2 separate regions of the Homo sapiens genome follow, and region 2 is linked to region 1. The links come from fine-mapping of genetic effects on plasma protein levels. A gene starts in region 1. The other region holds a variant in brackets. All regions are shown on one strand. Distances are between the middles of the regions. Region 1 holds the start of NCAM1 (neural cell adhesion molecule 1). Region 2 overlaps NCAM1 (neural cell adhesion molecule 1).

What was found. PIP is the posterior inclusion probability: the model's chance that the variant is causal. Protein levels are from the aptamer-based SomaScan assay of Sun 2018.
Region 2: its variant is fine-mapped to the plasma level of the NCAM1 protein (Sun 2018, PIP 0.95).

What each region holds. Positions count from the first base shown.
Region 1 is chr11:112,959,502-112,974,757 of GRCh38, reverse strand. NCAM1 (neural cell adhesion molecule 1) reads right to left here and starts at 13,338. Exons shown (of 20, transcript NM_181351.5): 1 at 13,094-13,338. The coding sequence starts at 13,145. It overlaps NCAM1-AS2 (NCAM1 antisense RNA 2), which reads left to right and starts at 11,298. Exons shown (of 3, transcript NR_120563.1): 1 at 11,298-11,548; 2 at 13,282-13,391; 3 at 13,907-15,256. RefSeq lists an enhancer at 12,618-13,395.
Region 2 is chr11:113,256,947-113,272,202 of GRCh38, reverse strand. It overlaps NCAM1 (neural cell adhesion molecule 1), which reads right to left. Exons shown (of 20, transcript NM_181351.5): 17 at 11,880-12,057; 18 at 1,808-2,015; 19 at 327-443. NCAM1-AS1 (NCAM1 antisense RNA 1) reads left to right here. Exons shown (of 3, transcript NR_034101.1): 2 at 1,682-1,999; 3 at 2,555-2,671. Among named protein-coding and RNA genes, the nearest start is that of NCAM1-AS1, 9.3 kb to the left of the region's middle. The variant A/C (reference allele first, on the strand shown) is at 9,249.

The DNA of each region.
Region 1 (15,256 bases):
CACCTCAGCAGAAGGCTCAATTTTTATAAATAGAGAGATTGAACCAGATGCACTTTGTCCTTGCATATACCAGACTTTGTTGAGGGCAGAAGCACCCTACTGAAAATAGGAGAATTAAATGAAGTCTAGACTACAGAAGAAAAAATTACCCCCAATCCATTTCTTATTCAGCTTAGAGAAAAATAGTAGTTGGACTTATACCGTGCCTGCTGCAAAATTTTGGATTCTCTTAAGTCAATCAGTCCAAAAGAAAATGTAAGTACTCATGAATATACATGGATGTCCCCCACCCAATAAACCAAGTTTCTGCACAGTCTTTCAGTGTGTGACATCCCACACTGAGCCCCACAGCTCTTCAGGGTCTCACTCTTTACTAATAGGCAGCCAGGGATCATTAGAATTTGAGGAGTTAAATGAAACAACATGAAACACAAAAGGAGATACAACAGCAAACATAATAAAGAGGAATTCAGACAAAAAGAGACAAGAAGCAAGAGAAATGTTATGAACTCCTCAGCGATATGAAAGATATTGCATCAAGAAAGAAAAAGATGCTATGCTAGCTCTTCAGAGGCCTCTTTCCGTTACTTCTTCATTCTTCATGTTTCAAAGAATCAGGGTTGCCAGGTAAGTGACTTCCAGATTAAGTGACTTCCAGATTAATGAAGTGTCACCAATATGATCTTTAGCAGCAACCATTATTTAAATACACTAAATTTTATGGCTCAACCATTATAGTGAATTGACAGATTTGATATTAACCCTATGCAAATGGAAAGGAGAATCTAGATAAACCACTTTTAATTTTTTAACTATTACTTTTGTCAAAATCAAGATCTACTAGGCTTTGCTTTCATAGGAGGTAAAACAGCTCCACAATGAAGCATGGCATTTCCAACTCAGTTGCAATTCACAGTGATCCTGAACTCTCAGAACATGAAAAATAAATGGAAAATGTGATTCTCATTAGAATCAATACTTAAATCCAACGCGAATTGTATATCCCTTCACTGTGAACTTTAGCAGAAAGAAAGGATATGGGAAAAAATTGCTGAGCTCACTATGTGCCAGACAGTTGTATAAACTACCTCATTTCATCCTCACAATAACCCTATTAGTTAGGTATTATCCCTGATTCACAGATAAATAAACTGACCGTTGGAGATTAAATAACTGGCTCAAGGTCATGAAAAGCAGGAGAGTCACAGTTCGAAATGTGGGTTTGATACCAAAGGTCCATGGGGCACCCTGTGCAGTATGCACTGCCTCCAACACCAAAAGGAGATACTAAATTCAGAAAGAAAGAAAGATAATTTATAATTATGTACCCAAACCAAAGAGCTTTCATTGGATTTCCATCTTCTTATGCCCTTGATAACAGGCCTTTAAGGCTGCTTAAAGTACACCTTTATGGAGTACTGTAAGTCCAATTCTCATATAGCAATTGCAGCTTAACTGGTGACTGGCAGCCTCTCATGTGAACAGAATGGACACTCAAATTGAAAATGACTAAACGAACATTAGAAAAGTAATCAATCACTCCTGTGCTGATCTGATAAAAACAGCACATCCAATTTGTGACATGCAGAACAAGCTTCAAAAGATTTTGCTATAGAAACATTTTTTAAAGGTCTAGAAATAAATGTATGAACACCACAGGCAATGAGGTAAGAAGACAAAACTGAATCTAAAAATAATCAACTCATATGATAAATGAAGTCACTGGGGAAAACCCTTAACTTTATTCATTTCCTCTGGCATAAAATTGTCCTGTTGTCCTTTGCAAAGGTTGCTCATCACCTCTCCCCTCCCTCTGGCTCTTTTCCGTGGTGATGCATAGTTCAATGCGCCCAGGAAGCTTCATGATGAGGCCGTCACCCAAACTAGCAGCCCTCCTTTCCTTCTTTCTTTGCCAAGTGTCCTGGACATCAGCTCTTCCTCAGTCTTTGACTCTAAATAAAGAACTTGAATTTCACCATTCAACTGAAATCCCTCTGACATCACTACTCTCCTCTGACACAAATCCCAAGTTTCTACTTAATTCTCACCTACTTTATACTTTTAACCACCCTTAGTACTGCTGCCCTTGTTTTTACTGCACTATTTGTTTTGCAAAGCAATATGTGCTCATTATCAAAAACTCAGACAACATAAATAGTGATTTACCGTCTTCCAGTCTTGATTACAGGGTGAGTGAAAGACGTTTTTTAACAAGATTGGGATTATACCTATATATATTATTTGTTTCCAACTTTCTTTCACTTCACTTTATTATACTTTTCTAACCTAGGCTTTTGTGCCACTAAGCTCTGGTTCTCTTCATTTGTTCACTATTACCTTCTGAATTATAGGCAAGATATCATTCTGTGTGCTACATAAACACTGCCACATAAATACTTGTGGGCGTGATAAAAACCCCGCAAAGTACTGACCATAACTCATGGTGTTTTTCTCTCCACTGAACATATAAAAATATAGATTACTACCATCTTTGAGTCTTCCTAGTCTCTTTAACTGGGATTCCTCCATTCACCTCCCAAACAGGGAACACACATACTTACCTCATCAACCCTTCCTCTCAGCGGAGATAAATTCTTCCTTCAAAGTCTCCTTCAACTCTCACCTAAAGTTGTGTGAATTCTCCAGTGTCTGCATATTTATTTCATTCCCTCAAGCTTATAACTTTAAAGAGCTTTCTCTCTCTCCGTCGTCTACCATTTGGGATCCATCATCCACCCTTGCTGGTTGCTTTGTTATTTCTAACATCTCAGCTATGCCCCTTTTATCCTTATCCAAAGTCATTACAAGTGTGTCTTTCCAAAATTATCTGCTTTAAAAAATATACCACAGTTGGGTTTCTTTAATCTAACAAGGACCTCTGGCAGTACACAAAATTTGATTTTTATATAATTTTCAGCTACATGTCTACTAATAGAATGTACAGCTGTAACCACCCTCTGGTTCCCAGGCAATATTTATCCTGACTCTGAAACATTAAGTGCCTCATATTTTGGCTGTAGATGCTACCTGGTATTCCCAGTTATCTTTTCATTCCCAAACAGACAGTAAGATCTGTAAGGTCAAGGTACCATATTTAGGGCACAATGATGTGCACCTTCAGTCCCAGCAACTCAGGAGGCTGAGGCAGGAGCCCAGGAGTTTGAGGCCAGTCTGGGCAACACAGTGAGATACCATTTCAAAAAAAGGTATAACATTTAGAGTTTGATTTGTTTTGTTTTTTTCACACCCTGTCGTTAACTGACTGCTTAGATGCTCAATACGTAACTTTGCTGTCATTTCTTCCTCCCCACCCTCACAACCCATTCAGTTTCTATTCTATACCTTCTGACGTACTCTTACTCCACTACAGACTGCTTCACCCTCTCTTTGATCCCACATTCTTCCTTCGATGACAGTAGCTTCCAAACTCTTTTGACCTGAGCCAAAAGAATGTATTTTCCATTACAACCAAGTTACATATTACACAGAGAGAGAGAGAGAGAGACAGAGACAGAGAGAGAGAGAGAGAGAAATTGAAGTACTCAAAGCAGTACTTACCCTTATATAAAACACACTCTCTTTTTCCACTTCTTCCCTCCTTCTCTCCCTCCTTCCTCCCCTTTTTCCTTCCTCTCTTACTTCTTTCTTAATATATATGGAAGCCCGTTAAACAGATTTCATCATCCATAGTTTGAAAAATACTGACCTACAAGTTAAGGTATTAGGAGGCCCAAACTTTTTCTAAAACCTAACCTGTCTCTTAATTTCTCCATCATATTTACAGTACCATGATTATTTAATTTCCTCGAGTTTGTAACTTCAAAGATCTTTCTCCCTCTCAGTCATCTACCATTTGGGATCTATCATCTACCCTTGGTTGCTTTGTTATTTCTAACATCTCAGCTATGCCCCCTTTATCCTTATCCAAAATCATTACAAGTGTATCTTTCCAAAATTTCCTGCTTTAGAAAATATATCATAGTTGGGTTTCTTTAATCAAACAAGCACCTCTAGCAGTACATAAAATTTGATTTTTATTTTTCAGCAACATGTCTACTAATAAAATGTATAGCTGTGAAATATTTCATTTACAATGCATTTCCCATATATTATCTTATTTTGTTCTTATATTCGATTGCGGAAGTTACAGTTCAAAGAGGTTACATAACTGATATAAATTCACTTGGCTAGTTAGTAGCAGAGCAACTTCTTGAACCCAGATCTTTCGAATCTAAGCCCAATGGTGTCCTTTCCCCGCATACAGGTGTTCCTACTGATTAAGCAAGATACTTTCATTGGACTTCACTAGCCTCCCTTCTCCTAGTATCATCTAGTTGATGTTTCATACAGCAATAAAAATCCCTTCGTTAGCCCTTCATTTTGTCCGACCACCATAGTGGATGCTATATAAAACCAGAATTCCCTTTTAGTGCTGCAATGAACTATATGAATTTGTTCCTACTTAACTCTCTGCTAATTCCCAGCTAGTCCCAAACATAGAGCCTGAGGCAGCACACGCTCAGTTGCTATTGTTAACTATCCTCTTAAACATATATATATATTTTTAATTTCTCTGTCATCTCCAGCAGGACTCCTCTCCTTTGTCTGACATTTAAGATTTAAATATGGCTTGCCCCAAGTTCCAGCCTTTAACTGCTCTTCAATAGCAATTCTTTGGCCAGATCCACCTCATCCTATAGGAAAACAGGCCCTCTCTCCCTATTTACCTTCATATCTGTGGAGGTCCAGGTCAGTTCTAGCTTTTCTATACCTCTTTTTTCCCCCAGACATTAAAACTAATAGACATGATTTTTGCCTCTCAATTTTCCCAGTTTTTACCTGCCTGCTTCATTCGGGCACTTACTGATATAATATCTTTCATGATTTCTTCGCAGCTTGAACTAAGCAAAAGTGCTTCCTCTCCAACCACCTGAAAGGGTCAGTATAGTAACCTTAAATTTATTTTGTTTTTCCTCTAAGCCTCTAGCACAGAACTTTGCACATCATATTCAGAGTACTGTACACCTTTTTAAACAAACATTTCAAATAAAATATCTGACCACAGGGAACTTTTTTAAAGCACATAATGAGTACATACTTTATATCTGCTTTACATATGTGGTTTTATTTCAGCTCACCAAGACCCACAAGGGAAGTGTCATTAACCCCATTTTACAGATGGGGAAACAGGCTCAGAACGACAGCAACTTGCAGAATGGCAGGACGGTTCCTTCAGACCACAGCTCTGAATAGTGCCCTTCCTCCCCATCACTCCTCCCACACTTTGGTCAGACTCAGTCCAGAAGCCACAGGAATTCCTGTTTGCTTGGCATGTATTCAGATGCTATATATATTCAAATTATCCTTGCCTTAGAAAAGGATAAAATTCAGACAACGAACGTAAGTTGCAGTCCCAGCTCCACCTGCCTAAGTCATTTAACCTTTCTCAGTCTCAGTTTCCATTTAAAGACTTACAATCTGGACTTGCAGAATTTTTTTTTCTCCTTATCTCTGGCTACTCCTCCCCACTACTCTCACACTGTTCCCCATGTACAACCAGATTCAGATCTCAACCACTGCTCAGGGTGTCTGCTCTGCCCAGATCACCCCTTCTTCCTGCTCCATCTAATGAAAGCAATTCTTCCCCAAGCCCAGCTCGAGGGAGTCCCAGGCAGAATTAATTGCTTCCTTTCTTGTGGCCCAACAGCATTTACTTCATGCCTCTGTTTATAAGTATAGTATGTCTGTCTCCCCTCCTTCCAGGTGGTAAGCTCTAAAGGCAGATGTATTATTTTCCTGGACTTCATAACGTGAAACTCCACACGATTCCTGAAGCTATCTGACCTTCTCCAGACTTCACAAAGGTTTGTTGAGTTAAGGAATTCAGGAATGTTTGTTGTAATTCAATGTTTGTTGAATTAAGTAGTCAATCAACCATGCCCTAAAATGAGAATACCATCTGTTCTTCCTATTTCACAGTTGTTTAAATGTTACATCTTCACCTCCCCAACCACCCAATCCCCCTTGATAATCTCTCATCCTGGGTTTTTCTTAGACTTGAATCTGAATATGTAATTATAAATGTATGTGTTACTTTTTAATGTCTATATTTCTCTGTACTACTAGACTGGAAACTCCATGAAAACAGGGACGATGTACGTTTAGTTCACCGCTGTATTCCCAGCACCCAGCACAGAGCACGTACTCAGTCAATATTTACTAAATAATTAGTGTGAAGATTAAGCACATATCAAAGTGTTTTGTAAACCATAACGTGATGATTAAGATATAATTATTGGTATTATATATCCAGTTTATCTCCTTTTAGATAGCTAAAACAAAATCTTCAGTCTCCTCTCCAATATCATATGCCTTTAGCTGGCAAAACTACTTCTTGCCCTGCCAATCGGGCACTTACATCTCACTCATTTGAATAATAATAGCAATTGCTTTATTTTCTTCTAGTTAGTAATTTACAAGAATATCGGCAGTGACAAATATCAAATCAGCTCAGATCTCATTTAAGATCTTCTGTCAAATAAAAGTGAAATACTTCTTTCTAAAAATGACTTTGACTTCAATATATGATTCTAATCTTCAAAGCACTACACATACAACCTCTATGAGGTCCACGTTTAATAAACTGGAACGATTAGTTTATATTCCCAAGCAAGTGGGTCCAAGTGGACCAAAGGATAGTTGCTAAAGAAGGACCAGAAGTTTTCAGGGTTCCTCAACTGCATGGACTCCTTCCAAGGCTCTGGGGGACTGGGACTTGGCAATGTGTTCTCATGGTCATGTATTCAACTAACCTTCGCAAAAGCAAGAAGAGTTTTGTATTTTCCTTAAAGAAGGCCCTCAAAATTATATACCCTTCAGGCCCAACAAGACCTAGATCCACCCTTGTGCTGATGGTTTTCAACCTTATAATCAGGCCATTTTTTTCTCTGAAGTATTCACAACCAACATGGAATTGCAGGCATATTTAGTGACCAATTTTTTAAGCCTAGTTCTAATCTCTGAAGGAGTCCTGTGTATCATAATACCCTTTTTAAAATCCTTCTAAAAAGAGGGCACTATGTCTAAATAATTATTTTTTCCAGATCCATATATATCCTTCTTGCTCACTAATGAACACTGCCTACATGCACTGAAGTCCTAAGATCTCTAAAATATTTATAACTCTAACAAGTAGGCATTACTAATTTTCCGATCTCACGGAAGAGGAAACTGAAACTTGAAGGAGTTAAATCATTTGTCTGAGATCAGACAGCTAGTAAGGGATATGTCTGGGGTTTCAACCCAGGGTTATCTACCTCTCTTAATCTCTAGTCTCTACTACTCCCAAGGTTCCCTGACAGCAGAAATTATGTCATCTCACTCCTTTTAATTCCCCACAGAGCAGATGATAAAAAGCTGGCACTCAATAAACATATTTGATCAACTATTTAAGAGAATACCTAATGTAACACAATCTCAAACAGTGTGACATTACTATGAATATTCTTAAATGATGAGGTAATCAGATACCAAAGGAGGTGATTAATGTACAACAAAAGGCATTTTACACCTTATCTCAGGAATGACGCCAAATAGAAAACGGAAGATCAGCTGTTACCCATGTTTGCAGCTACAAATCAAAAAGTCCTCAGAGTACGAAGTGGAATATAGGTTACATAGAAGCCTTTTAAATCATATCAGCCATGCAATCTTTGAATTCAAGAAAGTGTTACGTATATATGGAAGAAAATAGAATGCATAATGGGTTTATTACAATCTGTTTTTCAAAAGCACACATACACAAGATACACCAAATAGCTTATCCTTTTAGTGCAGTCCTCTTGGAGTCTCCAATTGCTTAGAAGCTAAATTAATACTGCAGGAAAGGAAAAGTGTGTCTACCCAACTGAAAATCCGTTAACTCAGTGGCTGCATGTAGACATGGCCTGAGCATGTTTTAAATGTAACGTATTGAAACTGCCTGAAAGGCCGCCATTTGGCACCCAGGCCAACATCAAAAAGCAATGCTCCTAATGAGCATCTGCAGCTGAGAGACAGTATTTCAACAACATGAAATGAAAAGGCATAATGGCACCACTGCCAACGCCAAATAATTTACATCCCTTTACATCAGCAAATGGTTTTAAGGTTTGGCCCCAAGAGTTAATAACAAAAGAGGCTAGAGGTAACAGGACTATGACCTTCAGATTGACTTCTGTATTCTATTACCCTACAGTAAGTAGTAAGCATATCTACCTGTATTGTTAAAAATAGTTTCACTACAATGTTTTCGAATAGTGAAAACTCTGGAGCTCATAGAAACCTAATCATTAGGATTCAGAGGTCCTTGGACATTTCCTCCTTCCTAAAAGACCATCTCTTACAGCATTGCTCAGAGTCACTGAGTATATTATGAAAAGTAAAAAATTTTCTTCTTCGAATTTTACTTAGAATTCTTTCTTTTTAACCAAAGGAATTTTCACCTTAGTGACTTTTATTAAAAGCTCAAATGACTTCATTTTATACAGCCACGTGATTAATGTTTTCAATTTTGTGTAATTTGTAACCCAGTTTTAAGATCAGTAAAATGCTCCCTGTAATGTGCTGCCATTTCTTTTAAAGTTCCAGACATTCCTTAGTCTATATGTTATAACTGCTAAACTGAAAAATGATCAATTATGGAATTTACATTAAAATATTTATCTTGACACCAGAAAACATGTGTGTGCTCAAAAAAGCAATGCTGAACTGGTGCAGGAGAGCCTTTATAAGATGTCTTTGTCTCCTCCTAGTCTATGATTCTTCCCGCAGACTGACGGGGGCAGGTGCGATCCCTTCTCTCCCTGGCCTGCCAATTGGTTCTGCTCTCCATCACAAGCTCAAGATCCTAAAAGTGCAACCCGTTCTTTAGCAACAGGTACTCAATCACTTATTTTACACTAAGTCAGAAAGGACTGTCTGTAAAATGTCTTTGGAAGCCTGCCAGTAGTATTGAAGCCACTTTCAGTCTGGAGAGCAGCCACAGTTCTTTAATACTAAAGACAAAATTATGAGAAATTTATCAAACTCATACTTAACAGAGGCTTCATCACCTTGAAAAATTAAGTGGTTGCATCAGAAATTCCAGAGTCCATTATTTAAGCAGTGTAAATTTTACAAAATGCTCTCTATAATTTGAGAAACTGGGTTCTGTAGTGAACAAAAACATGTCTAAAGATTAGCTTTTGAGTGACAAAATGGTGCTGTTTACTTTGAAAGGCAATTAAGACATTGTTCCTTGTGACAGAAAAATACAGATATAGGTTACTTCCATTAAATTACATATTACCTATCTGAGGAATTCAATTAATGATAAATGGATTCCAAACAGAAGCACTGTTCAAAACTTGGAATTTGGGGGTGCTACAGACTAATTTCTCCTTCTTATTGCTGCCTTCAGTAAACACCCACATCCCTTACAAATAGCACACCCACATCATTTTTTTTTCAGTTTTGATGTGGGATTTTTTTTTCTTTGCAATTACTATCTTAATTCTTGAACTATCAAACTCAAGAAACCAGTCACCAGTTAAATCAACATATTCTTAGTTTAATCAATTATCATTGTAAGACTTAGAGGAAACTCCTTTACTAAACAAGAATATGTCCTGCTATTTTCTGGTATTCCATTTTTAAAAAAAAAATCCTAGATAAAGGTATCTGGAAGGAAGTTATCAGGTTCAACAATTTAGGGAAAGAAAGAGGGCGTTCATAAAGCATTAACTTAAGAAAACAGTTAAAGACTAATGGAAGCTTAGCTAGGTTAGCAGATCTTTAAGACCTTTATAGAGGGAATAGTAACTCAAAAACTTACATAAATCATAGCCCACACGTCTACAATGTCTGGATTATATTCCCTGTTTTTAATAACTCTGTTGGATTTAAAACAAATTATCAGTTATTAATATTTCTAAATATGCTAGTATTTATTGAAAGAAAATAATCTTTCTAGGGTTTGGTTAGAGTTGTGAAAGGTTTTCCACATTCTTATATAGCCTTTATTACATTCAGTGAAATTCTGTTTAAAAACACACATTCTCAGTCTTCAAATGAAAATCAACAAAAATATATGGCTCACTATAACTGTGCTCACAGTCAACTTTGTGGAAGCGCACCTTAATTTGCTTAGTGAGAGATATTATATATACTACTTGATTTCAATGTTAGCTTTTGTAAAGTAGCTCTTTGTTCTTAACCGATGGTATCTTGTTAGAAACCCAGTCCTATCCATTCCTTGACTCTTGCAAGTTTAACTGGCAGAAGACTGCAAAATTATCAAGTAAACATGTGACTTAACCATTCCAGATCGTTCAAGCGAACAATTCTTCAAAACATCCAAAATTTATACTAGAATAAACTCAAATTTACTATGCAATTGCACAACCTTTCATTGTATTTCTAAAGAGCAGAGGACACAGAAAGAGGAGAGGGGCAGCCCATCGGACTCACTTGACGTATTAAGGTTAGCTTGCCTTATATGTAAATTTTCATATGCACCCAGCCGAGCACACAAACTCAGTTACCACTGCCCTGGACATGCTACATTTGAGTCCAAAAAAAAAACAAAAAAAAAAAAAACAAAAAAAAAACCTCAGATATATATACATATGTATATATACTTGTTGTTATGTTTTCATTTTCATTCTAACCCTTTGACTTGAATTCTTTGATTTTTTTAAAAAAAAACTATGGTACAAAAGACATTTTAATGGGAAATTATTTCTCTTTGGAAAACCATTCAACTTCTTTCTTTTGTTAAGCAACCTTGTATGTGTTTCACGTTCTGCCTTCTTCCCATCCTCAAGGTACCGGGCCAGGAAAGAGGTCGCTTTCATTCCAGGGAACACTGGTTAGAATGCCTCCCCTGCCTGGGCATCCAGGAACATCCCAGTGGGAATTCCTGGGCCTGCAACTTCCACGGGATCCAAATACTGATGACTGTACCCATCACGATGATGGAAAGGACCGCCAGGCGATCCCCCAAAAGGCCCACCAAATATCCGGGCTCCATTGTCACGCTCCCACCCGGGGGCGAGGATGTCTCAAAAACACCCCCCTTCCCCCGCCCCATGTGGACAGGTCGCGTCGCGGCACCCACGGGCACCGCGGAAAGGGGCATAACCGGGGTGGCCCCCGCCCAGGTGGCAGCGGAGACCCAGGGCCAGGCGGACTAGGCTTGGTCCCCACCCCTCCTCTCCGGGCCCTGCCACGGCCCCGCCCCGCCGTCAGTAGAGCCCCCGGCCCGCGGTCGGCCGGTCAGCGCACGCGCGTAGGTGTGCCTGCCAGGATGCCCTCCCCGGCGACGCGCTCAGGCCCGGATTCCGCGGCGCGAGAGTGAGCGCTGGCGGGGGCGGTGGGATGCTCCAAGTCGGCGTGAAAGAGGCGAGAGTGGGCGAGCACGGGCGGCCGGACCAGGAGCACTCCCGGTGACCACCTAGTCTCCATTTTATTTCCTCGGAAACTGCCGGGCAGGCGGGGGACCGGCCGCAGGGCGGGGTTTCTCTTGGCGGTGAGTGAGCGAGACCGTTAGGCTGAAGCACCGGGAGACTGTCCTGGCAGCTCCTGGCCGCCACCCGCGCCGCAATAAAAGCCTCTCGCGGCTTCCCGCCCAGCCAGCTTCGCACTGATTGGTCGCCGTGGGAGGGACCCGAGTTGGCTGGAGGCGGCGGCCGAGCGCTGCTCTTGTGCCGCCCGCGGAGGGGGCGCACTGGGTGCTCCCTGGCCCGCCCCGTGCGCTCCCCAACCGGGGGTCGGCCGTCCAGGGCAGGTACAACGGTACCTGGAGCTGCGACCGCGACACACAGCCCCTCCGCCCGGCTTTCCTCGATCGCTTCCCAGCACACGCCCCCCGCCCAGAATGTCCGCCCAACCCACCCAGCTCTCTGCGGCCCCTGCTTTTCTTCCTTCCCTCCCGTCCATCAGAGCCAAAGCGCAAATCCTTGGGTGGAGGTGGGGGGATGACAGCTGGAGGGGAGGGTGGGCACGCACAGAAGAATTTTCCAGGGAGGCCGGGATGGAAATAGCCAAAATGAAATGCACCTCCCTGCACACTGCCGAGGTTCTCTGGGCGGCGGCGCAACCCCCGCCACCCGCGGCAGCATCACTACTGTCTTCCTCCCAGCTCCCTATTGTTCACACTTTGCCAGGATCGGGAACCTCGCCCAAAGAAAGGAGACAGGGCGAGGTGTTTCGGGCGGCTACCTGCCATTCTTCTCCCGCCCCGTGCAACACTGGGCACGCGGCGCGTGTAAAGACACACGCGCGCACACGCGCGCGCACACACCAGGCAGCCCCAATCACGCCCTCCTCGCCCTCCGCCCCTCCGCACTTCCTCCTGTCAAAACGCGGCGCTCGACCCTCCCATCCTTCAGTGCTCGCGGCCGAGGGTAGGCTTTGCAACTAACCAGCAATTTGGCAAATGAAAAACTAACGTCATGTCGACTGGGGTGCAACAACGGTCACACCAACAACAACGGCCGTGCGATTCTGCCCATTTTGCCCCATTTTGCAAACCGTTATTCTTCTGGGGCGGGGGAAGCAAAGCAGCGATCCTGACTTTATTAGACCCAGGAATATAACGATCTGGGGCGGCTGCCCTAGCCTTATTGTTCACTCTTCCCGGAGCCGGGGCTGACAAGCCACTTCCCCCTCGGAATCCGAGCCCGTGCGGCGGCACCACCCGAGCCGCGACCTCCCCCGCCCCGCCGCCCGCCTTTGGGGAAGGAGCGCTGCCCATCACCAGCGCGGCCGCTGAGTCCCCAGGAGCCGGCCGGCTCTGCTCCCACCGCCGCGGGCGCACAAAGTGGGAAGGGCGGACGCGCCGGAGGGGCGCCGGGCGCTGGCGGCTCGGGGAGGCAGCCCCGTGCAGCGCAGCCCTGGAGGGAGCGGGGTTCGGCTGGGCAGCAAGGGCGACGCGCTCCTTTCACAGCTAAACGAAAATGACCAGCCTTAGCAGTCCACGTAAAACCACCCAAAATAATAGCGTTCCTCCTAGGAGTAGGAGGAAGGGGTAATTAGCAAACCAGATTGAGAATTAAAAAAAAAAAAAATGTACCTGCAGTTCCCAGGAAAAACAAAGTCCAGATGAGATCCTTAGTTTGCAGCATTGTAATCTGCTGGCTGGGAGGGATGTTCTTGCCGCGGTAAATTCTGTGCCCCCCCCCCTGCAGCGAGTGTGGACGGCGGCTGAGCGACAGACCTAGGGGCAGACAATTGCCAGGCTGAGTATGATTATTTTTGCAGAATTGTTTCCTGCCAGCGGCAGCCGAGCTGCGTTCACGCGCTGATCGGAGAATGAGTGACAGTCCCAGCCTCAGCACACTCGCAACTCGGAGATCCTTGCGCTGGCCCGGGTTCGTTTTGATGGAACTGGGATGGGAGCGAGGAGCGGGGGGCGGGGGTGAGAACCTCACTGTGTCCTTCCACCACGCCGGCCACAAATAGTGCCGAACATCAAGGAGGTAAGAGAGACAGGGGAGGCAGATGCGGAAGCCTGCAAAACGCGGCCTGGAGCTTTTGGGGGAGCCGGGCTCTTTCACACGCAGTCTCCCTGGGAGAGCTGGGATTTCTTTTCACACTTCTACCCTACGCCTTCGCAGGCGCTCCTGCTACCCAGCCTTCCTTAATCAGCAGTTTGCATATTTTGATAACTAGTAAATAATAAAAGCAAAATTTTAGATTTGGTTAGGTAAAGTTGTCAAATCCCTCCATTTCGATTCTAAGATCCTTGCAACACAAGGATAGCCCAGGACTTTAAGTGCGGGAAATTAGAACTTTGGAGAGGGATGGGGGTTGCCGTTGCTGGGTGTTGTTTGGATATTGTTTGTTTGTTTGTTTTATCCTAACTGTGAAGTTTGCTCTCCCACAGAGAGACATACAACACCCTTCAGCAGATCCCCTGGGAAGGAGGTGGGAAGAGACTTAAGTTAGAAGAAAACTCCGATGTTTGGAAGAGATTTCCAGAAATAACCCGAAGAAAATGTTTTCCTGTTTATAAATTCTGAAATCTGTGGTCTCTTTATTAAAATAGCCAGGCTTTTATATAGGTATTATGATATAGAAGCGTCATTAAATAATATTTTCTTACATGGGGACGTGACCTTAATTCTTAAAGATATTAATGTATAATATTACTGAGGTACCAACACAATAGGCTTTAATTAAAATTCCACCCGTGTTTTCAAAAGTAGGGGGTGGAGAAAGCGGGGTGAAAAGAATCATGTCTCAGCACCTGAAGGCTTGGGTATGTAAGGAACTAATGTGAGAAAGGTGTTCTAGATGTCAGGTTAACCCATTAGCCTAGAACACTGAAACCCTCTAACAGAGGAAGTCTGCATAAGTTCAAAGGCATTAAAGCACTAATGTTACCGGGTACTCCGTTTTTCTTCAAAGGTCGGCCTCCCCACTCCTGTAGCAGGTTTTTTGTTTTGTTTTGTTTTGTTTTGTTTCTGTTTTGTTTTTTTGAGATGGAGCCTCGCTCTGTCGCCCAGGCTGCAGTGCAGTGGCGCCATCTCTGCTCACTGCAACCTCTGCTCCCGGTTCAAGCGATTCTGCTGCCTCAGCCTCCTGAGTAGCTGGGATTACAGGCGCGCGCCACCACGCCCAGCTAATTTTTGTATTTTTAGTAGAGACGGTGTTTCACCATGTTGGTCAGGCCGGTCTCGAACTCCTGACCTCGTGATCTGCCCACCTCAGCCTCCCAAAGTGCTAGGATTACAGCCGTGAGCTACCGCACCCAGCCGCTGTAGCAGTTTTTAAAAGTCCATCCTCTACTGTCAGGACATCCATCCTTATTGGACAGGCCCCATCTCTTCCCCACTTTCCTCCTCTATAATAGACCAAGTGGGCCACACCAGTACAGTGTAATTAGCTTGGACCCCTGAAAAGTATTTCTTCCCCCAAGTAAATCTTCCACAACGTTTACTTTGGGCTATTTCTCTCATTCCAAGTATAAACAATTCAAAAGTACAGAAAAGTAGAAAGAACTAAAAATAACCCCAAATCCCACAGATTCCAGAGATACTCATAGATTTTGTCTTCTGTATGTGCATATGATTTTTATAATTGACATATTATAGTAGCAATTTGAATCCTGCTGATTTTGCCTAACATCAGTATAAGCATTTATTCCTCTGGATCATTAAAAAGCTTTTCTAGATATTTTTATAGCTATGTAATATTTCTTCATATGGATGATTTTGCAATGGTTTCCCCATTT
Region 2 (15,256 bases), 300 kb before region 1:
GACTCTGCTAAGCCTTTCAGTGAGATTTTGCCACCTTAAGCCATTTCCAGAATATGTGTATAACTTGAGAACAGGGGCTAGGGATCCAGGGATCCCTACTTATACAGGAGCCTTCTAAGGGTACCCACAGCCACCGAAATAGAACCAGAAATGCCTGAGGTCAGGCATTTCTCAGCCAAGCAGGTCTTGTGGCCAAGGGTTTGGAATCCTGGCCTGAACTGTTTGGCCGGGAGCTGTGGGTAGGGGCACGGGAGGTGGGGGTAGGGTGGGGAGGTGGGTGTGGGGGTCTCTACGGAGCAGGTGCCAGCCCCTCCCAGCCCACGTACTCGGGCTCCGTCAGTGGCGTGGTCTCGTTGGGCTCTGTGTGTTTCCCTCCATCATGGTTTGGGGTCCTCTCCTCCTCCGTTCGAACCTCCACGATGGGCTCCTTGGACTCATCTTTCCTGTGGAGACAGTACTGCTGGTTAGACCCTAGGGCAGCTGCAGGGAGGGGCTCCCACGGAAGAGCAGCTATGACTCAACCCAAGGCTGGCACGGTGGGCATCCAGAGCCAACAGATTCAAATGTATAAGTCTCAGCCCAACCCTTGCTAGCTGTGTGACCTTGAGCTTCAGATTTAATCACCCTGCCTCAGTCCCTTCATCTGTAAAATGAGGCAAAAACACTGTTACTTTGCCTAGTTATGAGAATTCAATGAAAGGATGCATGGGAAGTGCTAAACACAGTGCCTGACACAGATCATTGCTCAAATACATACATCTGTCTCTGTACACAGGTATACATACATTTCTTTTCCTTTCCTTTTCTTTTTTTTTTTTTTTTTTTTTTTTTTTGAGACAGAGTCTCTCTATGTCGCCCAGGCTGGAGTGCAGTGGCGTGATCTTGGTTCGTTGCAACCTCCGCCTCCTGGGTTCAAGCGATTCTCCAGCCTCAGCCTCCTGAATAGCTGGGATTACAGGAGCATGCCACCACGCCTGGCTAATTTTTGTATTTTTAGTAGAGGCGGGGCTTCGCCATGTTAGCCAGGCTGGTCTCCAACTCCTGACCTCAAATGATCCATCCATCTCGGCCTCCCAAAGTGCTGGGATTACAGGCGTGAGTCACCCCTATACATACATTTCTAAGTACATGCACATACATGTATATGCATATACAGTGCCTGGCATGTGGTGGTGCTAAACAACTTATTTCCTTGCTCAGTCCCTTTCTGGCTTGCTCCAGCTCTGCTCCACCCAGTGACAGTCTTCGAAGGCTCTTGCTAACTGGCTTAGGATCTGTTTCTCCAAGATGCTGTTGGAGGGACAGTATCTGGATCATCAGCTCCATAAGGACAAGAATTTCTATCTGTTTGTTCCCTGTTGTACCTATGTGCCTGGGAACAGTGCCTTGCCTGCAGCAGCTGCTTGATAAATATTTGTTGAGTGATGGATGAATGAATGAATAAACAATGTACGAAAGCAAGGTAAGTGTGTCCCTCTAATGCTGCCCTACCCCATGGCAGCTCCTCCCCAGGTTTAGTTCTGACAATTTCCCTCATTTTGACCTACACAGGGATTTTCACACTCTGGGGAGATTCTAATACAAGAGATCTGGGATTGGGCTCAAGAGTCTACATTTCAAACAGGTAACCCCCAAAGACCATGCTTTGAGAAACTTTTCTCTAATGTTTTTCCCCCATCAGGGTTCCAAATGGAGAACGTGCAATGAAAGGAAAGGCACCAGCTGATGGCGCAGGGTGGTGCAGCTGCTGGGTCCCTGGGCTGGAGCAGAGCCCAAACCTCAGCAAGGTGGACAGGTCTGCACTCACGAGAAGGCGGCCTTGCCCTCCTCCATGTCCTTGCCCTTGGCCCCGGGCCCGGCTTTTCCACACAGGTTGACCGCAATGCACATGAACAGGCCACACTTGTTCAGGAAGTAGCAGGTGATGTCCACAACCACCAGGAGCAGGACGAAGATGACGATGAGGATGCCCACGATGGCCCCGGTGCTCAGGCCTGAGGTGGGGCTGCCGTTGGCTTGAGTGGGAGAGAGATGGCTGGTGGTTAACAGACTGAGATGCGAGACCTCCAGACCCTGCCAGCAAAAGCCCCTGCGGGTGGGGAGGGCCCAGAGGACAGAGTCATGGCATTCATGCCCAGAGTGACACCTTCCTGGGGACCTTCTATGCCCCAGAATTGAGAAAACAGGGTCTTTCTATACCTTCCAGAGGGAGGGATGACAACATCATCTCACAGATTGGGGAACAGGGGTGAGCCTGGTCAGCTGGCCTCCCGTGAGTCCTGGGAGCAGACTGAGCCCCGCCTGTCTGAGAACACCGGATAATGAGGCAGTTGGAGGGCGCTGCTGTGTTTCCCCTGGACCAGGGCAAAAGGCTTTGCAGCACAGGCAGGCAGTGATCACTGATTTCAGGCGGGGCTGTGGCTCCTCAAGTGCTCAGGGATAGGGGCCCAAAATGGGGTGGTGGAGGGTTCCTGGGGCTTTCTTGGGGCTTGTTGGGTTGTCCATCACAATAGCATCCCCATTATACTTCTCCACTTCCTCTTTCCCTCTTTAGGAATGACCCCAAAGGAGCCCTGCATTAGAGCACACTGGGTTCATAGTTTACCCTCCTCACTGCACCCCAGGAAGACAAGTGAAGCCTGGGTGACTCCAGAGACATGGAGGCCTCCCCAGGCCATGGGCAAGGTGAAAGGTCTGGGAATACTCACCATCTAGGAGCTCAGGCCTGCTTGGACCAGACTTCAGGAAAACCTGAAGTGAGTGCAGACTCACTCAGAGGTGCACACACACACAGGCACACTCACACGCAGGATAAATGCCCATGCAGACAGGCATGCACTCTCACATTCTAGCACCTGGCACCCTGGTTCTGGCTGGACTCACTGTGAAAGACTCAGCCTGTGTCTTACTTCCCTGGTGCCCATCTGCAATCCCCCCAGGGTCTTTGGCTATTGATGGTTTCACAGAGAGACCTGGACTCAGCTCTCTGGGGCCCCTGGGAGATCAACCCATGGTTACGATTGACACTAGTTGCCTGGGATGGACCAATTGACCTCTTGGTGGTTCCCATCAGTGTCTGGGAGACAGTGGTCATGATGCAGGAAGCAAGGACCCATGTGGAGCTCTGCCATTAAGTCGATGTGGGAACAATCACCCTCGACTGAAATATGGGCACTTCTAATTCATCTTTCCTCCAGAACAACCTGCTTCCATAACTGGCAGCCCTGCCCCACCAGTAGACTATGTCTAAAGCTTCCTGTGCTCTCAGGGCCAACTGAAGCCACCCAGGACTGCAGACTGAAGATGGGAACTGTAGCCAGCACTACCTGGGGCTCACCCCACCAGCCACCCCACTCCCAACCCAGCTCGCTAGGCTTTGCCAAGCACCAGGCCAGGCTCAGCAGCTTGCGAGCCATGTAACATGCCAGATAGATAGTGGAGGGAACATGTAACTGAGTAACCAGCACCAGAGCTGGGCCACACATTTTTTGTTTTTCATGCAGCCTGTATTTGCGGGAGGGTGGTGGTATTGATGGCTCTGTGTGCCCCAGGGGTCTCTGTCCAGGCACTCTAGTGCTTCTCTGGTGGCTGTCCCTCTCCACTGGTCCATATTTCAAACTTCAGTTTGGGGAATGGGCCATCAGCCTAGCATGCCAGAGAGGATCCCTCACAAATGACTCCTGAGACCCCTGGGTGCAGCTCGTACATGTTTTTAGTCCCTTTGGGACCTTGGCTTGCCTCCCAGCCCTTCCTCCTCAGGCTCTCTGGCTGGTCCCTGCTGACCTCGCACTGAAGATCCTAGCGCATTCCCCCAGGAAGGCTTGAGATGGCGAAGAACTCTGCTTGGAGAACCCAGCTCTGGACACCTGTCTCTGGGCTTTGGCAGCAGGAAGCTGGCCACTGGCCTTAGCCGTCAGCTAGAATGGGTCATTTTCTTAGCAGCCATGAATGCAGAGGTATTTCTGGTTAGTCTCATAAGAACAAAACCATCCACTTCCCCAGAGTCCTCACACATTCCACCCAAAAAGCAAAGGAGACACAGGCCTTCTTGGTCTTCAGGATCCCATAGCTGTTTCCCTGAACAGGGAAGAAACTTTAGCCTTGGGTTTTCTCTCCATTCCATGACACAGGGCTCCAGGCCACTGCAGCTTCCGGACATCAGTACCCGATAGGTGTAAAGTGCCTACTCCCTGAAGAAAGATCTGAAAGTATTTTTTTGATGACAGTGGGGAATATGTCTGGATTTTTGGACTCAATGGCACTAATTATATCTTCTGAGGTTTATGTGTAAATATGATTTTGTGAAACTAATCATATCTCTAAAGAGGAAAAATAAACTCCTGCAAAGCTGCTCTATGTGCTTGAGAGGACAGCAGCTGGGACAACTGCTCTGTGCTCATCAGACCCAGCTGGAGGGCGGCACTGGCACTGCGCACATCCAGGGGAGGGCCAGGCAGGGAAAAGGCTTCTGAACTGTGGCATAAACAAGTAGGGCAGCGGCCTCCCCTTTCATTTGAATATAAAATTCAAAGTCTTTCTCCCGGCCTAAAAGGCCCACCATCTGCTGCAGACTCTGCCCACTCCTCTGTTGGGCCTCATGGCGTGAACCGGCAGCCTCCCTTCTGCCTGCTGAACACATCCAGCTCAACCCGCTTTAGGGCCTTGATGATTCTGTGCCTGGAACACTCCCTCCAGGGTGGCTCTCTGTTGTCCTGCAGGCCTCAGTCCCAGTGTCACCTTCTCAGAGAAGCCTTATCTGATCTCTTATCTAGTGTGGCACCTCCAGCCAATACCTACCATGCTGCTAGCCTGTTTTATTCTCTTCTAACTACTATCTGCCACTTTCTGTTCATTTACATGCTTATGATCTAGCCATCCCCCCTAGGACATCCCAGCAGGTACCCTGCCTGTCTCTCTTGTATCTCCCCAGCATCTAGGACAATCCTGATTCACAGAAAATGTTCAAAGAATACTTGTTGCACAAATGGATGAGTGTTTAGTCTGGAGACGAGAATACTATTTCCAAATATTTAAAGGTGTTATAACCAGAAGGAAGAAGTAGTCTTACTGTATATGGCACCAATGTGTGGAAATTATGGTGGTGGCAGATTTTAGCTCCATCTGAGAAAGGACTAATAAACAGGGCGAATCCAACATAGTGTGGGCTGCTCTGAGAGGTGAGTTCCTTGATGCTGAAGGCACTCGAGCAGAGGCCAGAAGACCCCTTGGCAGGGACGCTGTAAGGCTGTGGATGAGGCTCCCACACTGGGCAGGAGCATGGGTGGAGAGTGTCTCTTCAACCACAAGAGCCTGTCATTCCAAGTCATACATTCTACACTGCCTGGCACACGGTACAGGTTCCCTAATGCCAGTCTCCAGAGTGTGGACTGAGAAAGACTTTTTCCTGGAAGACCAAAATGCTCGGTAGGTCCCATATTTAATCACTGATCCTTGTGATTTTATTTTTGCATGACAAATACCTTTAAACTCAATATATCTCCACCTGTAGCAAATTCCTAGGGTGTTTGTTAACAATTCAGAATCTGGGGCTCCCCACTTTTATGGGATCTGAATCACTGGGTATGAGGCTCAGGAAACAGGAGTTGAACAAGCAGCCCAGGTGATTCTTATGAGGACCACGCTCCTAGGTCTTCCCTCCCCTGCATTACAAAGAGGAGCACGTGATCCCATGATTTGCCACCCCAGGGTGCACTGTGCTGTCTCACCCAGTGACCCTGAAAACAAACTTGACCTAAGGTATTGAGTGGATCAAGAGAAAACAAAGAGTATGCCCCAAAGGAAAAGCGACCATACTGTATGCCAACACTGAGTCTAAACTCCTCAAGCAGGTGAGATGCTCTTTAAGCTAGGAAGAGAATGTTTGTGGCTTTTACAAAAAAGAGGCTGTGAAGAAGGGACAGGCTGTGAAATGGGCAGCAGGGTATTGAAGGCGAAAGCCAACACCCATTCCCTCTCAGTGGCTATCACAGAATTGTTTAGTCCAAGATAACTAGAAGAACAAAGGCCATCTCCTGCCTCTTGTGTAATATTTCATAAAAGGAAAAATATAAACCTCCATGGGTCTGTCTTTGCTATGGTCTTCCCTCAGCCCTCCCTTGACTAACTCACCTGTGCACCTTGGATGCAAAGAAGGCTTCTGGGGAAGAGTTTCCCCATAACCTCGAGGTCAGAGCTGCCCAGGACAGGGAGATTATGAAGGTGGAGCTGTCCATCTTCTGTGATTCCTGGCTTGGGAGGGGTTGGCACTAAAGAGGGAACTGGCTTGCTCCAAGAATGAGACCCACAGATGCCTATTTTTGTATGCCTTAATATAGGAACATGGGTCTCACATTTTATAAATATCCAGATGGGCCTGAGTCCTTGTGCCATGAGACCCTGGTGCAGCAGAAATGCCCTTTTCACCCCCAAGACTCCCAGAAGATGGTCAGACTCTTGGAACTGTTGAGCTGGGGTTCTGGTTCACTCATAAGCCCTTTACATGTCTGCTTGCTCCTTCGAATCAGCTAAACAGATGGCTGGTCTCAGGGGCTTGCAGGATGCGTCTGAGTTAAGTGTGATTATGAATAGAATACAGTTTGCAAAGAGAATCTTCTCTCAGATTCCCTCTCCACAAGCTCACTCTGTGCAGCCTCTGTTAGGGATAGTATAAAGGCTGCTGTGTCATCAGGTGACCTTGCCACAGAGTTGTGCATCTGTTGGCTCAGAGTGTGGCCCCATCCCCATAGTGACCACCTCCCCAGTTCTGCAAAGGCATTTTCCCCTCCCACTGCCTGCTGGGGACTCCAAGGCAGCAATGCCTCTTAACAGCTCTTAGGATGCCTGGGAAAAAGAGATTGCTCCCCGTTAGGAAGAAAAAGTATTTCATTCACCAGGCTACTATTTCTCTAGGTAATAGTCTATCCAGGTACATGAGAGGCGGAGGGAAAGGGTCTTTGCTGCTTTGTCAGACACAACTATTGAATAAAATCAAGCCACGCTGGTGAGTTCACATGAACTGTTATTTCCTTTAATAATGCAAAGGTGTAAACTTCATAAAGCCCTCACTGATTATCTACACAACAATGTTAGCATTCTTATTAGTAGAAAAACATGATCCAAACCTGCTGTATAAATAGTCCAAAAATGAGCAAAGGGGCCCCATGGTGTGTGGAGCATGGGCAGCACAACTACAGGGCACAGGGGAGTGGGGTGTGGCTGAGCAAGGTGGGGTGCACTCACTCCTGCAGGGTCTCTGAGGGCTGCTGTCTCCAGGACTCCTGGCGGGGCTGGGGCTGCAGCTGTCACCAGGAACTCAGTGTCCGTGGGGAGTGGGTATGCGCTAGTGCTGCCTCCTGAGGAGCGCACTGTTACAAGCCGTGGGTCTGTCTAAATGGGACCCTTGAGGACCCTGACATTGTTTCAGCTGAGGCCTGCCTGACCCTGGGATGTGTTGAGATGACAGGGCCACGTCAGTCCTCTCCACACTTAGGACGAGATCTCCAAAGGGTCCCTTCAGAAAGATGGACACTGCCCCTCTCCTGTGGGTGGTCCTGGGATCAGGGGGAGGCAGACTCCCAAGCTGGGCCCTCCTAGGATGAAGCCGTGTGACTTCTGCCCAAGGTGATCCTAAGAGCCAGTAGCTCTCCCACACTGACCTGGGATCCTTATGCTCTGCCCTGTGCCCAAAAACCATGCCTGCCTCCACTGCCCTGGTGTGAAGCGCCATCTGGGACTCCAGCGGGGAGAGTTTTGTGGCTGGGTTGAGAGGCACTACCCTGCCTGAGCTACTGTGCAGCATGGAGCCTCTGATGTCTGCACGTGAGCCTCTAAACTGAGCGCTGGGGATTAATGGCGAGCGCCAACATAGGTGGCTTTGCCCCTCAGACCACAGCATGGGATCATTTGGAATCCCAAAGGGAAAGGCTAGTCTTTGAACATTAAAAAATAATAACAACAGAAAAAAATACATAAAGAAACCAAAAAGAACAAAAATCAAGCTTCCATGGAGATGCTCAGAGATGAGATATGTAGAATGATATGTGACCACAATGGGGGGAGGGAGGGAGTTTTTATTCAGTAGAAGGTCCATCCCCAAGCACACACACTGATATTACCAAGCAGGATTCAGCCCTGAGTCTCCACAAGGGACCTTAACAAAACACACCCATTTCCTCTCCTGGGTGAACTCCCAAGCAGCAGGGAGGAGCAGCTGGATTTTCAGGAGAGTTTAGAAAATGTCACTGAACCAACGCACCAATACAGAGGCTGGGGCATTCAGGAAGCACTGACAGGTTGGCTCGGCCCCAATTTATTAACCCTCCTGGGCTGGGCAGTCTGGGAGTGGCCTGTCCCTCTCCTTCTCTACTGAGCACACACAGGCCAGGTAGGGGACTAATGCCTGGTTCACAGTGGATGCTTCCAACCTGTCCTGTAGACTGATGCTCAAAGCCATTCTGTGGGTCACTGCTGAACCACGGCCCCACTCTGTGCTGATCTGCGACATGCTGCCAGGCAGCAGGGGAGTCACCCCGATTGGGAGACAAACACCTTTCAAAGCTGACACTTGTTGGCACATCATGGCTTGGCCCCGTTCACAGAGACAGTGTAAGGTGCTGGCCGTAATACGAGGACTGAAAGCACATCCCAGAACGTTCATCAGCCCCAGAAAATATCCAACAAATTCAACTTTTTTTCCAGTGCATGGGCAACAGGGGTGACTTCAGTTGCCCATCATGTCAGCAAAACGCTCATGTGAATCAGTGCGGTCTGGCTCTTTTAACATGGGCACTTAAATGCTTAATTGCAAGCAAAGCCAATTATTATTGAAGGGAGGACAAGGAGCACAGAGTTAGAATGAGGGGAATGTGTGGTGATTTTAACAATCTGACACAAGCTTTAGAAGGTACTTAGAATTCTTCCTCTGCTACATCATATTTAGGTTTGAACCCAAAATGCAACAAGTAGCAGATATGCAGAAACTTCTCTGTAAATCTAGCATGATGGTTTTTAAAAATAGCATTTAAAGAAAGAGCTCTCAAATTCTTTTTACTGCCATTAAAAAGGGGGCAAACTCCTTATGAAGTGGCACAAAAGTATCTGTGAGTGGTGACATGTCTGGAGGTAAAGCTTTTTCCAATCACAAAACCTTCTCTTCCACACAGAATGGTTGCTCAGCAGCTGTGGCCATGGTGGTCCTGCCAGGTTCTTCCAAAGGGGGCACTGATCTTTTTCATAGGAACTGGGCTTTT[A/C]AGCAAATTTAATTTTTGTGTTCAAGTTCCTAACAGAGCAAAAGAAGAGTCACTGCAGAGAAAAGCAATGAGACAAAGGTGTAGGATGCAGAATTGCCTCCCAAGGTTGCTGCAGGTGTCAAGCAATGGGTCCCCAGAGATAATGTGGTTGTTTAAAAACAAATGTGGCAGTGGGGATGTCCCAGTGACGTCCAAGGTGACAAGTGTGACGACAGACACAGGAAGGGGAGGGGGACAGAAGGAAAGGGAAGGTAGAGACAGAAACAGAGAAAAAAATAGATAAAAAGAAAAAAAATTAGGTCAACTATAGAAAACACAGAATCAAAGGTTAATTCAACTTAGTAAATTAAATTGACAAAGGTTAGAGAGGGTTCAGTGCAGTATCAATACCATAAGGCCAGTTCAGAAGCTCAGCAATGCCAGAAGCAGCACAGCAGGGTTAATTTGGGGGCTAGGGATCAGCGAGCAAATGAAATTAAAGTGAGAGAACAGAAGCCTCCACGCTAAAATACAAGAGTTTGATTAGGAGAGTGTTACCTTTCACTAAGGTGAAGCCTCTTAGATACAGCCAGCAAGTGTATTGTCTTCTAGTGTCTAGCGTGTTTTACCCATAGTGGTGGAGATGCATTGGATCGCTGCACTATGAGTCAGCACACTGTGCTTAGGGATTGGGGATGGCCTTGTCAGAGATGAAGCAGGCTTTTCTTCCTATGGCACAAGTCCCACACCACAGTGCTGTTAAAGGAAGTCTCATTCTGTACCCCGCTTCACCTTCTACCCTGCTTGCTGACCACAGAATTCAACCACAAATGTCCAACTTGTAATTCAGAGAGGTTTTATTCTCGGATCCCAATTCAATGGCCAGGAAAGTCTAACCGAGAACACAGCCACCACCTTCTCAGATCTGTGCAGGAGAGCCACAGAGCCGTCACCGGTGAGGTGAGCAATCCCCCAGCCCTCTCTGGCTTAAGTGGGCACCTGGGCGATTCACAAGAAGGATTCTGATATCTCCAGCAGGCACAACTCTGGAGGACAAGGTCTACCCAGAATTTCGGTCTCTGACACAAAAACCACAGAAGCCAGTGCTGCTAGGAGTACCCAGCATGTGAACACAGCAGGTCCAAACAGCCTACCCAGTGAGTCTCACCCCAGGGAGCAATTGCCATAAGGAATCTGTCTTGCTGCAAAGGGCTTACTCAAGCCTCACCTGATCTCACCTCCTAAGTGTCCCATGAAGGCCAGACAGATCTGGACATTCACTCCAAGCTGTCGATTGTAAAGGAATGGACCAAAGAATGGAGAGAAAGAAGGGGCAGAGGAAAAGCAAGGAGAACCTCCATTTGAACATCCTGTTAAGGTATAATGAGGACATTTCCTGCAGCCTTGCCCACGTGCCTTGCCTTCTGCACCGACCATCTGACCAGCGACTGTGGAGAAACACCCACCCCAGCAAGCACTGGGGAGCCTTCCTGTCAATGCAGGGTGGACCAATTGATGCTTCTGACCTACAGTGTAAAACTCACCTGCCAACTCACTGGAGGTCCAGCACACGTCTCCCAGACACACACATCCATGTACAAACAACCACTGGGAACCACACACTGATCCCGTTTTGTTGCTGCTCTCCTAGCCCATTTTTGCACATACATCCCTGCATCATAGGCAGGCCACAGCCCTCTGGCCTGTCTCCTCCTGGGAGGAGGAATCATGACCACCGAGCCAAGAGCCGGGCAAGCACTGAAGACAGGGCAGGCATGAGGGGGGCTGCCCAAGGCCGTCTTCCCACCACACTTGAACATGGCAGGGTCTATGGGGCCCCCCAACAGGCTGCAGCTGTATGTTCTATGCCCACCTCTCCTGCCTGGGGTTGGCATTTGGCTGGTCTGGAAAAGCAGAGTGATCAGTTGAAGAGCTCCTTCTTCTCTGAGGGATTTGGCCAAAAAGGAGACCAGCAAGGTTAGGTCTTGGATCCCTGGAGACAGATCTGTATCTCCTAGGAGAACTGCTGCCATCACAGTCTCTAGCAGACCGGATTGCTTTCATTGATGGTGCTTTCCAGCATCTATTTTCTCCACTTGTTCTATTACAAGTGGTTCAATTTAATCTGTTTCCATTGAGAGGCCTTTGGTAGATAGGGTTTGTAAGTAAATGGGCATCATCTCTTCCTTCTCTTAGGGTCACCACAGAGAAGAGATTTGGACCATGGCTGTGCTCATAAAGCAAGCATCAGATAGGAAGTGCTTAGAAACAGTTATGTGGTCCAAGTATGATGTGGCAGATGGCAGATAAGGTCTCAAAAAAGGATCCTTACTCAACCAACTTCCAAGGCTAGGCTGGAGCTGGGGCATTTCCCATCTGAGGGGTCCAATGGACTGATTGGCATCAGTCCTTCAAGGCCAAATGGGACAGGACCTTTTCTCCAGGATGCTTGGCCAAGCCTTCCTGGGGGTCCAGTACATCTCACCCCACTGCACAGATAGGTACAAGGCAAAACTAAGCTTTGCATGGGCAACCAATCATGAGGATGGCTGTAAGCAAGCAAGTTGTCAGGGTTGTTCAGGCGCATTAGGAGGTGCAGCACTTGTGCATTAATTCAAAGCGGAAACAAACAGAAAGCAGAGGCAGCCATACCTGGGATGGCTGTGGGCTGGGCCGAGGTCCTGAACACAAAATGAGCCGCCTTGGATTTTCCTTGCTGGTTCTCAGCCACCACGTAGACCTCATACTCAGCATTCCAGTCCAGGGACTTCAGCATGACGTGGTCACTGCCAGACGGGAGCCTGATCTCTGGTTTCCACTCGGAGGAGAGCTTCTGGGAGAAACCGGCAAGAAGGATACAAGAGACCAAAAAAGCTTTAGATAAAAGTACTGGTAAGACCAGACAATAGGCAAAACTTACGGGACTCAATAACTTTTGGCATGAAATCATGAAAATAAGAAGCAATGATGGGGGTGGGCGCGGTGGCTCATGCCTATAATCCTAGCCACCTTGGGAGGCCGAGGCGGGTGGATCACTTGAGGTCAGGAGTTCAAGACCAGCCTGGCCACCATAGTGAAAACCCGTCTGTACTAAAAATACAAAAATTAGCTGGGCGTGGTGCCACACACCTGTAGTCCCAGCTACTCTGGAGGCTGAGGCAAGAGAATGGCTTGAACCCAGGAGGTGGAGGTTGCAGTGAGCCGAGATAATGCCACTGCACTCCAGCCTGGGTGACAGAGCAAGACTCTGTCTCCAAAAAAAAAAAAAAAAAAAAGCAATGATGGGACATGGTCTTTATTCTTTACCAGCCTGAAAAATTGCACAGGTCAGGAGGTCAACTTTGCATGCTGGCAAACACAAGCAACAGCAGATGCCAGTGTGGCATTGGGCCAACACCGTCAAGGTCCCATCACCTTCAGGGCATGCAGAGACTCAAGCACCACTCCTGTCTCCCAGGCTACACTCTGGTGCTGGGGACATATGCATAAGGATGTCCTAGAAGAGTAATAAAACAAGTACATTTCTTGTCATATTTCAGGATGCTGCTTAAGTTAAAGTGGCTGACTCACCTTCCTGATGTGTGAATACTGTGTAGATTCCAGTTTCGTTAAAAATGAAAACTATGGCCGGGCGCGGTGGCTCACGCCTGTAATCCCAGCACTTTGGGAGGCCGAGGCGGGCGGATCACGAGGTCAGGAGATCGAGACCATCCCGGCTAAAACGGTGAAACCCCGTCTCTACTAAAAATACAAAAAATTAGCCGGGCGTAGTGGCGGGCGCCTGTAGTCCCAGCTACTTGGGAGGCTGAGGCAGGAGAATGGCGTGAACCCGGGAGGCAGAGCTTGCAGCGAGCCGAGATCCCGCCACTGCACTCCAGCCTGGGCGACAGAGCGAGACTCCGTCTCAAAAAAAAAAAAAAAAAAATGAAAACTATTTTTGTTGAGCCCTTACTAAGAGCTAGGCACTACAAAAGCTTTACACACATTTTCTTGTTGTATTCCTACAACATGCCTGTGGGGTTTTGTCAGGCTCTTACTAAACCCAGTGATGGGGAAGTGAGAGAGAAGTAAGGTGACTAACGTAAAATCACACCTGCAGTCAAGGCTGGAGCTAAGTTCGTTTGGGCCCAAAACTATGATCTTTCCTTTTTTTTGTTTTTCTTAATTGTGTTCTTGAAAATAACAGTTTTAATTGATACAAAATAGCTATACAGATTTTCAGGGTACATGTGATAATTTAATACATTCACTTAATTTGTAAAGATCAAGTCAGTATAATTGAAATATCCATCACCTTAAATATTTTTCTCTGGGCTAGAAACATTTGAGTTATTTTCTTCTAGCTAGTTTGAAATATACAATAGGTAATTGTGAACTACAGTCACCCTACTGATCTATCAAACACTTGGCCGTATTTCTCCTATCAAACTGTATTTGTTTCCATCAATCAATCTCTCTTTGTCTTCTCCTCCTCTCATGATCTTTCCCTTCTATAGTAGGGAGCTCAGCAAACATCTGTTGGACTGAATAAGGTTTTTCTATTCCATGCAGTGTGACCTGGTCTCTACAACGGCAGCAAATAGATGGAGGTACCTCGGGACTAAGTTCTGCTGTCAAGTCCAACAGTGGGCTGCTCAAAGGGCCCACAAAGAACAATAATTAGGTAACCACCTCCCTCACCAAACAGTTTGTGGAAGAAGGCCTGAGAAGTCTTCAGATGGTTTCACCATTGCACAGCCCATCTCTTTGCAATCTTTGGCCTTTTCACAAGGCAGGTGCCCTGGGATATCTGCTGGGCACACAAGAAGTCTTGATAGATGTTTATTGCATGACAGGCTGCTCCTTGGAAGGGCAGAACACAATAGCACTGTCACCTGGACAGTGGTCTAGTAACTGTTGTAGGCCCATGGCTAAGGCTGGATGAGGAGTTATCTTACAGCAAAGCAGTCCTCCCAGGCAAAAGGGTTTGCACTAGCCAAAGAGATGCCTTTAGGAATGTGACAGTGCTCATGCTGCATGGGCAAATGCCAGTGGTGCTGGAAGGGGAATTCTAGTTTCCTTAGAGTCTAACCAGTCTGGCTATGCTGTAAGCTAGGATGTGTATATATCACTATGTGGCCCCACTTTCATTTAAAAGAAAGCAATTCCGGTATCTTTCCTCTTCATTTCTCTGTCTTCCTTGGCAAACATCATTATACAAGAGACAACCAGAATCTAGAGAAAATGTTATATTATACTTATTCATAATATAAAATTATAATATTTAGCAAACATGAATGAGGTTTTGAAGTGAGAGAGGGTGGTTACGGTTGTTGAAATCTAACATATTTCAGCGTTGTGCCCAGCTGTGTCTTTCTAATGCAGAGCTGCCTGCTGCAGCCACAGTGGCTCCTCAGACAAACTGACATCCGACATGGTTGGAGATGTCATACGGGAGATGGTTCCAGCCTGAGCCTGCCTCTTAGCAGTAACCATAGTGACCATTTATAAAGGTTTCCAAGTGTCAGGTGCATTTCAGGTTCTTTGCATATATTATAATGCATCTTTATAACAACTCAATAAGCTATTTTATCCCCATTTTACAGATGGAGAAATTGAAGTTCTGAAAGATTAGGTGACCTATTCTTCCAGAATAAGTAGTAAAGCTAGAATTGGATGCCATGTCTGTCTGGCTCTAAAACCTATGTTCTGTCCATGGGGCCACATCAGGATAACCATTGGAAAGGCATCCCAGCCTACCACATCTCTGCTTCCAGGGGTATATTGGGGGCCACCTGCCCAATCCTTGCACCCTACTTGGCAGTGAGGAAGCCATGGGGACCTCTCATTCACTGGGATCTCTGGACTGGGCCTCAGGGCAGTGACAGGCCTTTCCTACTATTTCAGCTCACATCTGCTTACAAATTAAGTGGGAACAAGGCCTCTGCAGCTGAGAAGTATGCCTGCGGGGCTCTGTGCTGAACTGACTTGCCAGAAGACTAGCTAGTTAAAGACCTATCACTTCCACAGGAGCTGATCACAAGGCAGAG